Regions from separate parts of the Homo sapiens genome. Here region 2 is reported to be linked to region 1. Evidence: microRNA targets listed by miRTarBase, many of them from high-throughput screens and not tested one by one. Region 1 holds a microRNA gene; the other region holds the end of a gene's coding sequence.
The links. Region 1 holds the annotated microRNA hsa-miR-4729 (UCAUUUAUCUGUUGGGAAGCUA, at 3,174-3,195, opposite strand). A microRNA usually pairs through its seed, bases 2 to 8, with sites in the 3' UTR of a target mRNA and lowers its output. Matches are read on the target gene's strand: a 7mer-m8 pairs with bases 2 to 8, a 7mer-A1 pairs with bases 2 to 7 and ends in A, and an 8mer does both.

Region 1 (7,000 bases):
ACATAAAGACTGCAGAAGCTACTTATTTCCACCTTCACTTGGCCGTATTCCAAACCTCATGGCTACACCAAAGCCACTGGAATTCTGCAACTGAATTCTCTCTTTAAATTTAGAGAAAAACTCATCAACAGGGAGTTGCAATTGCCCGCTTTCAATGATTTGGGGAGCCTTACTCAAGAAGCCAGGAGTGTCAGATGAGACAGAGGGCCCAGGACCTGCAAACCCCCAGACCTCCATGAACTAACAAAGGCCCTCTTCTTAGAGTTATGACTGCCTGCTGTTTGCCAGTGATCTACCTGCTTGCTATTTAGCTGAAGGCACCACCAAGGAGGGACCCAGCCTGACTATTTTTAAACAGCTATGGCATGTTATCAATGCCCACTACTCCACAACATCAACATTGTATAATCACACAAAGCTCAAGGATACATGGTTTACAGAAGCTAAAGAAGTTGATTTTCCAAAATAGGCTATGTTTTATTCTCATCCAATCTCAATAAAATCCTATCACTCCTTTGCTTAAAACCTTTTAGCAGCTCCTCACAGCATCCAGAACTCTGTCTAAACTCCTTAGTTTGGCCTTCTAGGCCTTGCATGATCCACCCTGACCTGCTTCCCTAAAGCACAGACTCCCCATCTGTCTTCCCTGTGGTCCCTGGACTTGGCCTCGTGTCATGTTTCTCTGTCTCTGCTCAGAATGGACTCCTCTTGTCTTCGTCTTCTTGTCCACTTAGTAAATGCTTCTAAACACTCATCTTAGTAAACATTCATCCTGCTCTTTACCCTCATAACATCTGGAACAATCACTTACAGTGAAACAATGACTGTGTTTCACTACATTTTATCACTGTTTATCTATTTGCCTTCCCCATTAGATCATAAGCTACTTAAGGGCAAGAATTCCAGGCAAGTGCACGGTTCACGCCTGCAATCCCAGCACTTTGGCAGGCCAAGGCGGGCTGATCACTTGAGCCCAGGAATTTTAGACCACCCTGGGCAATATGGAGAAACCTCATCTCTACAAAAAATAGAAAAATTAGCCGGACATGGTGGCGCATGTCTGTAGTCCCAGCTACTCAGGAGACTAAGGTGAAAAGATCATCTGAGCCTGGGAAGTTGTGGCTGCAGTGAGTTGTGATCATGCCTCTGTACTCTAGCCTGGGCAACAGAGTGAGACTCTGTCTCAAAAAAAAAAGAGAATTTCATCCATTTCTGTATTTGTATCCATTTCTGTATCCCCAGTGCTTCATACAGTAGGATTTAATATATGCAGGGTGATGAGGGAGGTTAAGTGACTTGCTCAATGCCACACTGAAAATTTAGCACAAAGCCAGGTCTGGAGCAGAGGTGGCTTGACCCTCATTCAAGGCTTTTCAAATGGTGCCACAGACTCTCCTCAGCAGGGCCCCACACTGTCTTCCCATTACAGTGATGACACTGTAGGAAACTATGTGCCCTATCTGGCTTGATCACCTTGTAACCTATGGTGGGAACCTGTGGGTGCTAGACGGCTGGGGCTGAAGTCTGGCCTATGGAATAGAATTCTCACCAGGGTGTCAATTAAGACCTTGTCAATTAGCACAGTGCCTCAACCCCTACACTCTTCATACAAGCCACCATGCTGGTTTGAGATTCCTCTTGAAATCACAGAAACCTATTTCTCCAACACCCATTTCACAACAGTCATTCTAATCATCTTACCTAGGGTTAAGTAAACCAGTCCAAGGGCCTAATTGGGCCTTTCACCTGTTTTGCAAATAAAGTTTTTCTGGAAAACATCCATGCTCATTTGTTTATATATTCTCTGTGGCTGCAGATTTGAGTGGAGACCCTATGTCCAGCAAAGCGTAAAATACTATCTGGCCTTTATAGAAAAAGTTTTGCAGACCTTTGGATCTAGCCCAAAAAACAGGGAATCAAGACTGCAAACAGCCCCTCCCTTCTACCAAGGGACTGGCTGCCCCTACTCTGGAAGTTAGTGAACCAACTGGCTTTTGAATGAAGTCATTTCTTTTTTTAGCCCTGGTTACAGGCCTGGGATCCAGGAGGAGATTTTGCCTGTCAGAGGCACACAGGGACCTGCAACACCTAGCACATGGCCTGGCACATAATGGCACTCAATTAATGTTTACTGAATAAATAAACAAAGACATGAGAAATCAGCCAGGCTGAGCCTCGAACAAAAGTCCATACTCCTCCTGTCAGTTTCAAGGTGGCCAGTCACACAGGTACCTGGCAGCAGCCGGGTGACCTAGATTTGTCAGACCTTATCTTATTGGCTTTCCTTTCTCGTGTATTTACCCAGCACCTGCCCCCACGATGCTCAGAGCAGGTTGGCCTCTTGTTTTTATAGAGAAAGAGATGGACAGGGAGGAACTCTCCTCCCACACAGACACACTTTGTGTTTTTTCTTTTTTTCTCCCGCTGCGGGAAGAATCAAGAAATATGGGGGCTTCGAGCTTCAAAAAGCTCCATGAAGTCTAGTTTCACTGGCTTCCTCTCTCCTCAGGCTTCCTAGGTGAATGTTTCTGGCATGAACCTTAACGGCCCTCTCAGAGTTGTACCTGTCGTTTGGAACATTTGGCATCTGAAGGGGAAAGGCCAGCTGTGGATAAAGCTGGCAGCTTTCAGAAGGTCAGGAATGTAAACAAAGCAGCCCCCACCCAGTGGGGAGAGGCCTGGTCCTGAGAATACAGACATTCCTCCAAAGATGCATCAGAGAACAAGGGGCTGCCCGACTCGGCTGGGCTAGCTCAGGCCGACTCTGCAGGGGAGGACAGGGACCATCAGGGAAACAAAAGGCACTTCAGCCTCTCATGAAAATTAGGCAAACTGAATGGAAAGCACTATGGAAATGCTGGTTTTTCAGCTGCCCCGGATAACCTTAGGGGCCAGGCTCAGGAAGGAGATCCTTGTTGCTGCTGCCACCAACCGCTTTTTCAGGTGCTGGGTCTTCCAGGAACCAAAGGGTACCGTGTGACAGGCTCAGTGAAGGCAAAGCTTGCATCTGTTTGCCACTGTAATTCCCAGGGTCTAACACGTAAGAGGAGCTCACACAATGTGGAATAAATGACAGGGCCCTCTGCAGGAGGGTTTGCTCAGGGATTTTTTGTTTTGGTGAGGAAACACTTTTCTGTTTCCTCATTTATCTGCTGGGACGCTAAGGTCACAGTTAGCTTCCCAACAGATAAATGAGGAAACAGAAAATTGCTCTTGGTGGAGCCAACCCTAACAAGAAGGAAAAGGAGCTCCTGGGCCCCCAAAGATAGAGAATTTTCCTTTTGATGATCATAATTTACCCCTTCAAAGACCCAAAGGTGTCAGGGGCTAAAGGGGAGGGGAGAACTAGTGCCACCTGCTCCACCTCTTGACATCACTGTAGTCTGGAGGGGAGGGAGTTTATGGACTGATTAGATGTTGTTGTTTCTAGCGGCAGCTGGCAGAGCCATCTCCTCCTCTCTTCCTCTCCCCCTCCTCCTCCAACTCACTGTCCAGCCACCAGCAATAAGCCAGGGAGAGGAGGGAAACAGCTAAAGCTCCCCTTGGCTGGGCAGCCCTTACCCCAGAGATAATACTCTGGGTCACCAGGTCAAACCCTCCTCTCAGCAGCTTTGCTGAGTGCTTTGGAAACAAAGGTTATCAGAGATTCTCTTTTGGTTTTGTTCTTTCAAGATAAAGAAAGTGGTTTCTTTCAAAAGATTCCCCCCCACCCGAAGTGTCACAGAAGGAATCAAACTGACAAGCAACTCTCAGCTCCAGCTTCACTCTCCAGGCCAGGGACTTCTCTTCCAGCCGCCTGGGCTGCTGTGTCACAGCCAACTGAGGTCCTCGGGTGGGTCAGAGGCACAGTAACCACCTGACAGACTAAAAGGGAAGGAGGCAGGGACAGGCTTTTCCATTTACATTCTAGAGAGGCTTCGCTGCTGCCTGCAGGTAAGGCCCCAGAAAGCTGTGGTGGAAGGTGCTGCTGCTATTTCATCACCTCCTGAGACCTGCTGGTCCCCCTGGGATAAGGAACAAGCGATTCCATGAGGAGAGGCCTCAAAAGACGACAGATGACAACTGTAGGGCTCAAGGGCAACTGCTGAGACTCTCCAAAAACAAGGGCAACAAGCAAGAGTGCCAGGCTTGTTGGGGTGCCAGGCCCTAGTTCTGTCACTTTCCATTTGGTTTTCTTTAGTGACTATTCATAGAATAACACTAGCTTCCAACATTTATTGAGCACTTATCACGTGCCAGGCCCTGTGGTAAGAACTTCACATCAATAACCTCATTTAATTTCCACAAAAATCCTATCAGGTATCTAATATTACTATTATTCCCATTTGCCAGTGAGGCCATTAAGACGCAAAGGCGGATGGGCGCAGTGGCTCATACCCGTAATCCCAGCACTTTGGGAGGCCGAGGCCAGTGGATCACCTGAGGTCAGGAGTTCGAGATCAGCCTGGCCAACATGGCGAAACCCCATCTTCTACAAAAAATGAAATAAACAAATAAATAAATAAATAGCCGATGTGGTGGCAGGCACCTGTAATCCAGCTACTTGGGAGGCTGAATAGGAGAATTGCTTCAACTCGGGAGGTGGAGGTTGCAGTGAGCTAAGATCGTGCCATTGCACTCCAGCCTGGGTGATAGAGCGAGACTCTGTCTCAAAAAAAAAAAAAAAAAAAAAAAGACACAGAGGGATTACTTAATGTACACAGCTACTAAATGAATAAGCCAGGTGGTTGGGCTCGGAGTTATACCACGAGCTGCTATGTTATATGGCCTCATATCATCTTATGCTACTACATTAGACTCAGAAGACGCAGGGGGGAAGTAGAAGGAACTTTAAAGACAGTCTAACCTATTGCACTCATTTGGATAAATGAAGAAAAGGGAGAGCCAGAGAGATGAACAGTCTTGCCCAAGATCACAGCGCTTGACACTGTCAATCTTCCAGATGCCAGCCCTCTCCCAGGGCTATGTGCACCAGCTATGTGCAAAGTGGTGTGTCGGGGGAGGTGGCAAAGTGCAAAATCAAGAGGCCCTCAGTTTCTCTCTGGGCCTTGGTTTCCTAATCTGTAAAATGAGGAGTTGAACTAGAAACTCCAGGTTCAAAGGTACCTCCAGCCACAAAGTTCTGAGCATCTATGACTCCAGGACATTGAGAATCTTGTTAGGAAGCAAGACAATTATACATAAAAAGTGCACGCAACCATAACAACACAGACCATACCACAAGACAGTCATTAATTTCCAAATGAACAACCAGAGAGTGAGTTCTACAGACATTCAGAGCATCCTATAAGCCAGGAAGACTCACTAGAAGAAAAAAAGATGTGAACTGGTCTTCAAGAATGGGTAGGAACTGAATAGAGAGAGAGGAAAGGAGAAGGATTCACCAAGGCAAAGGAAATGACAGGAGGGAAGAAAGGGTGGGATTTGCCACAAGGATTACTGAGTAAGACCATAAAATAGGCAAGGCCAAAAGAACCTAGGCCACACTGCGAAGCGGTAGCAAAAAGTACATGAGCAGATCTGAATCTGAACCCATCTGGCTTCTTGGTAACCTGGTAACCTATGGCCTTAATCCCCACATTGAAAGGATGTTGTAAAATAAGTGATGGAGTAAGTAAAATACCTAAAGGAGTTCCTGGCACACAGTAGGTGCTCAATAAAGAGGAAAGTGTTCAGCTGGGTGCGGCGGCTCATGCCTGTAATCCCAGCATTTTGGGAGGCTGAGGCAGGTGGATCACTTGAGGTCAGGTCAGGAGTTCGAGAGCAGCCTGGCCAACATGGTGAAACCACACCTTTACTAAAAATACAAAAATTAGCCGGGCCTGGTGGCGGATGCCTGTAATCCCAGCTACTTGGGAGGCTGAGGCAGGAGAATTGCTCGAACCCAAAAGGCGGAGGCTGCAGTGAGCAGAGATCACGCCACTGCACTGCAGCTTGGGCAACGGAGTGGGACTCCATCTCAAAAAAAAAAAAAAGAAAAAAAAAAAGGGTAAGTCTTTAGGACCAGTGTGGTGGCTCACCTGTAATCCCAACACTTTGGGATGCTGAGGTGGGAAGTCTGCTTGAGGTCAGGAGTTTGAGACCAGTCTAGGCAACATAGCGAGACCCTGTCTCTCTCTCTCTCTATATATATATCTATATATACATAGAAACTAAGAAGGTGTTCAATCAATAGTAGCTAATAGCAGCAACATAGATTTTCCATCTTGTGTGTTTGTTACAACACCAAACAACCTTATCTGTAACATTCTTCTACCCTCCATGGTGAGCCTTGCATTCCCTTGTTTCCTAAACATCACAGGCTCTTTAAGTGCAGGAATCATCTTATCCCTACCATCTAGGTTTAAATGTTGTTTAAAGCACAAGAAATATTGAACTGAACAAGTAGTGTATGACAGTGGATTCTAGTCAGCCCCCAAACGCAAACAGCCAAGCTAGCAATGGTGCAGATTTACCATTCCAGAGGCCAGAGGGAGTGCCACTGCTCAAACAGAAACAGAGGGATCCTGCACCCACTCCTTGCTTCCCAGGTTGAACACCCTGATGAAAAAGAGTTTCTTTGGATTTCTGACTGGGAACACAAGCTTGATTACCAGTGTCCCTGCTGAGAGCCTAGACGCTAATATACAAACCAGTCTTATGATTGGAACCTTAAAGGCATCTGCAAACCACAGAGTTAATTTTCAGGGTACGCCTCATCGCTCAAGTCAACATTTCCTTTTGGTATTTAAAGTAACCACACAGAAAGAATCACATTTGAGCAGATTTTGTGCTCCAGCTGCCTGCAGTCTGCAGCAAAAGAAAAACAAAACATAAAGATGATTCACCAGATTTGGTCCCAGCAGCTCCCTTGATACTAAATTGGTGAGCAACTCTATGTGTGCCCAGATCATTAATTTTCACAGGGAGCAGGCGTGACTGTGCGACAGGTCTGCCTCCCATTTAAAGCATGTGACTTCCTGAACCCAATTCCCCTTGTCCATGCCTACACATGATAAAC
Region 2 (7,130 bases), not on the chromosome of region 1:
GGGTGATAGAGATATTTTGGAATTAGATTTTGGGGATGGCTGTAAAACATTGCAAATTTACTAAAAAAAAAATCATTGAATGAAATTAAATCCTATGGAGATGATAGGTATTTTCATTTTGGCCAGGCAATCTACCTGATTAGGTTCAAGCCACAAGTTCCCACCCCTCCATTCTGCAGTCTGGTTCCAAAGTCAGTTCAGTGTCCAAAGTCTTCACAGGACTATTCAGTTCTGTCTGACTTGTGCACCACCCAGTGGCCAGTTGTGTCTGTGGGTGATGGTCTCTCAGTTCAGCTGTCAATCTTTGGTGTGTTGAACAGGACGAGATCTATGCAGGAGCAGCTCAAGAATGAGCCCTGGGGTTTATAGACAGGTTAATGGGGTTGCTTCACTGATTAACTCTCTCTCAGCAATTACCCTGTTGCTTTCATTTGCTGAGGCTTCTCTTTTTAGTCTTCCAAGCAGAAAACAGGCTTTCGGTATCTGGCTCTACCATGCATTTCTACATCTGAAGCCAAGAAGTGGGAGGACTGAATTGGAAGAGAAGCAACATGGATTGTTTCTGCCCTCTTGGGACCACAGCTCTGTCAGTTGGAGAAGGTTCCCTCCTACATCTTGGCTCCTGGGCTCCTCTTGGGGCTGGTGCCAGTGCCACTGTGGGACTGCTTGTGGGCTGAGGTATGAGAGAACAGGGAAAAGAAAAATGGGGAGGAACGAACTTCTGGATTCCCTCGGAATGTTAGGAGACCCTTTTCCCGTTACTTGAGCCAGAAATAGAGGGCATCTTCTGGAGCTCTTTCTATCTGCACCCTGGTGCCCACTGCCAGGTTAGTCACGGGATGCCGTAGGGGAAACATGGTTATCTCACCACTGGTTTGGTGGTACTTCAAGTTCTGGTCTTCTTGGGAAAGCTGCCTGCAACTATTTAGTTTTCACTGTCTTCCAATAGCTGCTCCATGCATTCTGTACTGTCTCCTGGCTGGACTCCATGCAGGAAGCCTGTCTCCTCCACAGTGTGCACTCACTCAGGTCATTGTTCAGTTTTATTGTTGGCATTTGTTTGCTTTAATTTTTCAGAATGGCTTCTTAGAGGTCGCTTCTTGTTTGCATAGTTTGTCAAACATCAGTTAAAGCCAATATGGTTTCCACCATCTGCTGCTGGATCTATGTGCAATGGGGAGGAGGCACGCCCCGGGCCATTTGCAAGGGTGTTCCGGCTTTTACTTCCTAACACTGGCACCGGCACACACACAGGCTGTGTGCCCTGGGCATATGGACATGGCTTGGGCTTGCTCTAATCTCTGCCAGCTATGAGCCTTCAGTCCATTTGGGTAGTGTGAAGAGTTTACTAAGCTCCCTCTGGCTCTCCGACCTCCCGGAGCTCCCTCTTACATCCATGACTAATCTGCAGGTCATTTGCTCGTCTCCAAAGGCCCAGAGCCTCAGGCTAGGAGTCAGTGGCCTTTCTTCCTCCTGGTCACTGATATCACCACCTTAACTAGCCATGCTGCAAATCAAAACCTTCCTCACTCTTGCCTCCAGCCCCTGCAACGAGGTGGCAGGGGAGCTTATCTCCACAGGCTGCCCTGCTGGGGGCCGCTGTGTGTGTTATCAACAGCTGGGGTAAATGGGGGTAGCAGCCTGGGCAAAGATGCCACAGACACAGGCTGGTCTTATCCAAGGCTCACTTTAATTCTTCTTTTTTTTCTTTAGGGACAGGGTCTGTCTCACTCTGTTGCCCAGGTTGGAGTGCAGTGGTGTGATCACAGCTCACTGCAGCCTCAATCTCCTGGGCTCAAATGATTCTCCCGCCTTAGCCTCCCATGTAGCTGGGACCACAAGTGTGCACCACCATGCCTTTTTTGATTTTTTTTTTGTACAGACGGGGGTCTCACCAAGTTGCCCAGGCTGTTTTTGAACTCCTGAGCTCAAGTGGTCCTTCTGCTTCAGCCTCCCAAAGTGCTGGGATTACAGGCGTGAGCCACCGCGCCTGGCCAGCTTTCATTCTTAAACACATCCCCATTTGTGCGGTGCCTTTGGTAAAATTACAGAATGCTAAATGGTTTGTCCAGCTATACAGTTACATTTTGGAAAGATTTGTTGACCTCCTCACTTCATCATGCTAGAAGTGGGAACTTTGATTCTCTTTAAAGAATCTGAAGATGAAGGGAAGACCAAAGCATAATTTGAGAGAATGGCAAGACTGAGAAAGGTTTCTGTAGCATGGTGCATGCATGTGTGTGTGCGTGTGTAGGGAGAGGCAAAGGGTTCTGACAAGAGGAAGAGGCTGAGGAAGCAGGCTCATCTCCACAACGTGCTGCTGCCACCCAATCATAGGGTCTCTTGCAGCAATTCCAGTCCTGATCTCACAAACCTCATACCCTAACTACGGTCCCCCTAATTGGGGTCCCTCCTCAGAGCTTTCCTAAGGCTCCCTAACTTTTCCCCTCACCTCGGTTGAGGCCTCCATGGTTTGGACTTGCTGGTTTTGCCTTGCTCTTCCCTTGATAAATACACCATTTATTCCGGTTCAGCCCTTGGAACTTTAAACCTTAACCCAAGCCTCCTCCACCCCACTATATTAGCCCAAGCCTAGAGTATCAGATCTGGATATTTGGGTAAAGATGCAGACAAATTTTGAGTTGAAAAAGAAAGAACTTAATTGCACCATTGCACTCCAGCTGAGGGCAGGGCACAGTGGCTCATTGCCTGTAATCCCAGCACACCATTGCACTGCAACCTCTGCCCCCTGGATTCAAGTGATTCTACTGCCTCAGCCTCCCAAGTAGCTGGGACTACAGGTGCACACCACCACGCCCTATTAATTTTTGTATTTTTAATAGAGATGAGGTTTCACTGTGTTGGCCAGGCTGGTCTCAAACTCCTGACCTCAAGTGATCCACTGGCCTCGGCCTCCCAAAGTGCTGGGATTACAGGTGTGAGCCACTGTGCCTGGACTGTATCTCCTTCTTAATAATAATAATAATTAAAAAACCCAGCATTTACATTGAGTAGAGGGAAGACTACACCATTGTTCTAGATGGTTCAAAATTTGGCTTATCTATAGTAACCAGGTCATTTTATTCATTTACTTGTTTCTATTATATATTCATGAATACTTCAATTTTCATATGTATTTCACATATATACCATTCAAAATAAACAATATACAACAGGTTATTGTTAACAATTATAAACATTTATTAAGCACCAAGAATATACTGTGGTGGTTGCTATATGAAAACATAATTACCAATATAGTATCCCTGCCATTGAGCTTACAATCTAAAACGAAATACAAGGCTATGAGCCTATCTAAAAACTTCCTTAACTTAGAAATGGCTACTTTGGCAAATGAGTGAGGCAAAATGACCTATTATTCAGGTGCAGTGCTAATAAGGCTTTGAATATCATCCAAAGAATGTTTTACTTGTACCCATTGTTCCTGATTATGTTACACTTGCTAAGAAAAACAGTACTTAGAATTTTGGCATGAACAATGAATTATTTCAAATTGTCTTGTAGGACTTTAAACAAAGAGATGCTTACTGGCCTAAGTTTTCCAGCAGCCAGGGAAAGCCCTATTAAAAATATTATGAACTAGACCAAGTTTCTCTTTTAATCCACTTACACTTTTTTTTTTTTTTTGAGACGGAGTCTTGCTCTGTCGCCCAGGCTGGAGTGCAGTGGTGCAATCTCGGCTCACTGCAAGCTCCGCCTCCTGGGTTCAAGCCATTCTCCTACCTCAGCCTCCCGAGTAGCTGGGACTACAAGCGCCCGCCACCACGCCTGGCTAATGTTTTTTTTTGTATTTTTAGTAGAGACGGGGTTTCACCTTGTTAGCCAGGATAGTCTGGATCTCCTGACCTCGTGATCCGCCCCCCTCGGCCTCCCAAAGTGCTGGGATTACAGGCATGAGCCACCACGCCCGGCCCACTTACACTTTTTAAACTTCTTCCTCTTCTCCTATACCTAAGGGCTCCAATGATACTACTTATCAGGGAAGAAAGTACTGTATCTAGATAAACTACCCTTAAGTATTACAGGCTTAGCAAGTTGAATTTCTAGAAAATACTCATTCATAATTTATTTATTTATTTTTTTTGAGACAGAGTCTTGCTCTGTTGCCCAGGCTGGAGTGCAGTGGCGTGATCTTGGCTCACTGCAAGCTCTGCCTCCCGGGTTCCCACCATTCTCCTGCCTCAGCCTCCCGAGTAGCTGGGACTGCAGGTGCCCGCCACCACGCCCGGCTAATTTTTTTGTAGTAGAGATGGGGTTTCAGTGGTAGCCAGGATGGTCTTGATCTCCTGACCTCGTGATCCACCTGCCTCGACCTCCCAAAGTGCTGGGATTACAGGTGTGAGGCACCGTGCCTGTCCACTAATTCATATTTTAAAAGAGGACTGAGCAAAGACAGCAATGGAACCTCTGGCTGCAGGAGATGCCTGGGTATGCCTGATATGTAAACAAACACAAGCAGTCGAGTTCAGGCCATGCATCTTCAAAGTGACGAAGAATATATGTAAATGCTTGTTTTTCTCCTCCATATTTCTCGTGTAGAGGTATATGAGAATTTAGCATCAAGACGCTATACTGCAAACCCTGTTCTGTGTTGCCTATATTCATAGCATAATATTTAATAAATACTCCCAAGGTTGTCATTGCTGGTCACATATTAGCTGACAAAGGCACACTGAAGGGACTTTGATTCTTACTGTAAAATGCAAAGATTGTTTTAAACTACTCAACATATACAATCTTAAACTATGTGATGATTATTCTCGATCATTTATGATAATTTCAATTCTAAAAGATTACTAAAAAAAATTGGTTGTAGGGTATCTGAAAACAAAAATAGAATGTACTCCATAAAGTACATGCACAGAATTTTTAAAAATGCAGGCATACAAATATTTAATGGCAGAGTGGTAATAACCTGAGACTTTTTAAAAATGGCAAAACAATATTTCAGCAATTTTTGGAAAAAAAACCCAAATATTTTCCCTAAGAAGTCTCTCTTGGCAACTTTCTTTTTAAGCAACAAAGCAGCAGCAACATTTTTAAATGTTCATAAAGCTCGCTTTCCATTAACAAGTTTATTAAGGAAGAGTGGTCCTGAAACTTCAGGATAAAACTTTTGATAAAAATAGAATCACTAATTTTGACCTAAAACAGACACTAAAACACCCCTCCTTCCAATTTAAGAGTGTCATTTATACCTCCTACTTACAGTAAATAAATCAAATTAATTATAAGATTTCAAATGGAAAATCTGAAACACATATCAACATCATTTTCTTCTAATAAGATAACAGAAATTAACTTCAATGGATTTCCCCAAAAAGAGAATAGTTTCTAAAAACTTAATTACAGCTGTGGTAAATGAATCTGGGTTTACCAATCTCAGATCTCAATGCACTTAGTTTTAGTTGGTATTCTGTGAGATGGCTAGAATTCCTGATTTAAGTATGTAGTATGTATGTTTTTAAGGCAAGGCAAGTTTGAGTATGTATAAAGCATAGATATTAGCATGGTTATAAAGGCAATATGACCGACATACACATTCAGTTTTCTGAAGCAATATATTCCAAGCTACATACAATTTAATTTCATGTCCTATTCTAAGACTACATGCTTAACATTAAGCTTAGAAACATAATTGCTGTAATACATTAAAAATACTTCATTTTCCAATATTGTAAAGTATATTTCCAAATACCTGGTATAAATTTTTTTTTGCACAAAAATTTAAAGGACATCCTACAGCTAGCTATTACTACTGCGTTAAGTAATCATTTGAAGGAAGAATTCACAAGGAGAGCAGGTTATAAAACTAAGCATAATAATTATTGCATTTAACTAAAAAAAATCAAGTAGTTCTGAATTACACTTGTTTTTTGTCTTAGTAATGTGCATATTCACTTTCTAGCTACTAGTTTGATAAATATACTAAGATTGTATAAGATTTGTTTTTCTTGTTTTTGTTTTTCTTGGGTGGTTATTTTTCTTTTCTGTGTCCTTCCCCAACAGCAGTTGGAATTTTCTTTTGAACACAAAGTAAATTAATGTTTATACTGTTTTTTCACCTGAGTCATGTAAAAGGTGACTCCTTTCATTTTAAAAAGTTATATTTAATTTTTGGGGGCCTTAATTAAAATTTAACATTTAACCATGTGTTTTTTTTTTGTAAACAGTCTACATGTCAACAAATGGATAAGGGTTAACAAAGGCAAATACTGACTTCATTTGTGTTTTAAACACGATTATATGAATTTTTCTTTTTTAATTAAAAAAATGACATAAAACCATTCATATAGGTCCTCTTCTCTCAACTGCTTTGAGATATAGCTTTAAATATGGGTAGATCAAGACAAGTAATGTTGGTAATCTCTTATCTTGCATAGAAAAGAAAAAATAAAGGAACTTATTTCCTTCCTAAGGTCTCAGCTAGTTTCTTAAGTCTTTTCTTCAGCTCCAATGGAAATTTCTCATAGCACTTCTTACAGACTGGCTTCATGTCAAACTCCACAAACTTATTCCTAAAGACAAAAAATTATAAAAAAAAAGAAGTTAGTGGAAACATATTCAACAAAGATATATAAATGATGTGCAGTAATTGTACTGAACTAAACGAAGGCAACTAGGTGATGATATTATATTCATGTTAGTAAAAAAACCATAATCCTAACCTCAATTCTTATTGTGATATATATATAAAAATTCAGTATAATTTTAAAAAAAAGTCCTTATAAATTGGTTCTATACATCCATCTGTGTAACACAGACTGTAGATTACATTTTATTCAGTACTAAGTAAACAGGAAATCTAATGTAAATATAATTAACTTAAGTACAGTCAATCACTTTTTTTTTTTTTTTTTTTTGGAAACAGAGCCTCGACTGTCACTCAGGCTGGAGTGCAGTGGTGATCACAGCTCCCTGCAGCCTCTAACTCCTGGACTCAAGCCATCCTCCCACCTCAGCCTCCTGAATAGCTGGGACACAAGTGCATACTACTATGCCTGGCTAACTTAAAAATTTTTTTTTGTAGAGACAGGGTCCTGTCGTATTGCCTAGGATGGTAATCACATTTTAGAATACCTTAAAGATAAATTTATCTAAAGGAAAGA

Region 2: miRTarBase lists LIMS1 as a target of hsa-miR-4729. Seed matches in the 3' UTR shown: 8mer at 5,210-5,217, 8mer at 4,786-4,793 and 7mer-m8 at 3,198-3,204.

Annotation. Positions count from the first base shown.
Region 1 is chr17:59,362,287-59,369,286 of GRCh38, reverse strand. It overlaps MIR4729 (microRNA 4729), which reads right to left and starts at 3,204; the gene lies at 3,133-3,204. The region is part of intron 2 of YPEL2 (yippee like 2); the gene reads right to left. RefSeq lists a silencer at 1,245-1,539 and enhancers at 2,096-2,865, 2,866-3,635.
Region 2 is chr2:108,683,294-108,690,423 of GRCh38, reverse strand. It overlaps LIMS1 (LIM zinc finger domain containing 1), which reads right to left. Exons shown (of 10, transcript NM_001193483.3): 10 at 3,178-6,539. The coding sequence ends at 6,425. Among named protein-coding and RNA genes, the nearest start is that of LIMS1-AS1, 8.3 kb to the right of the region's middle.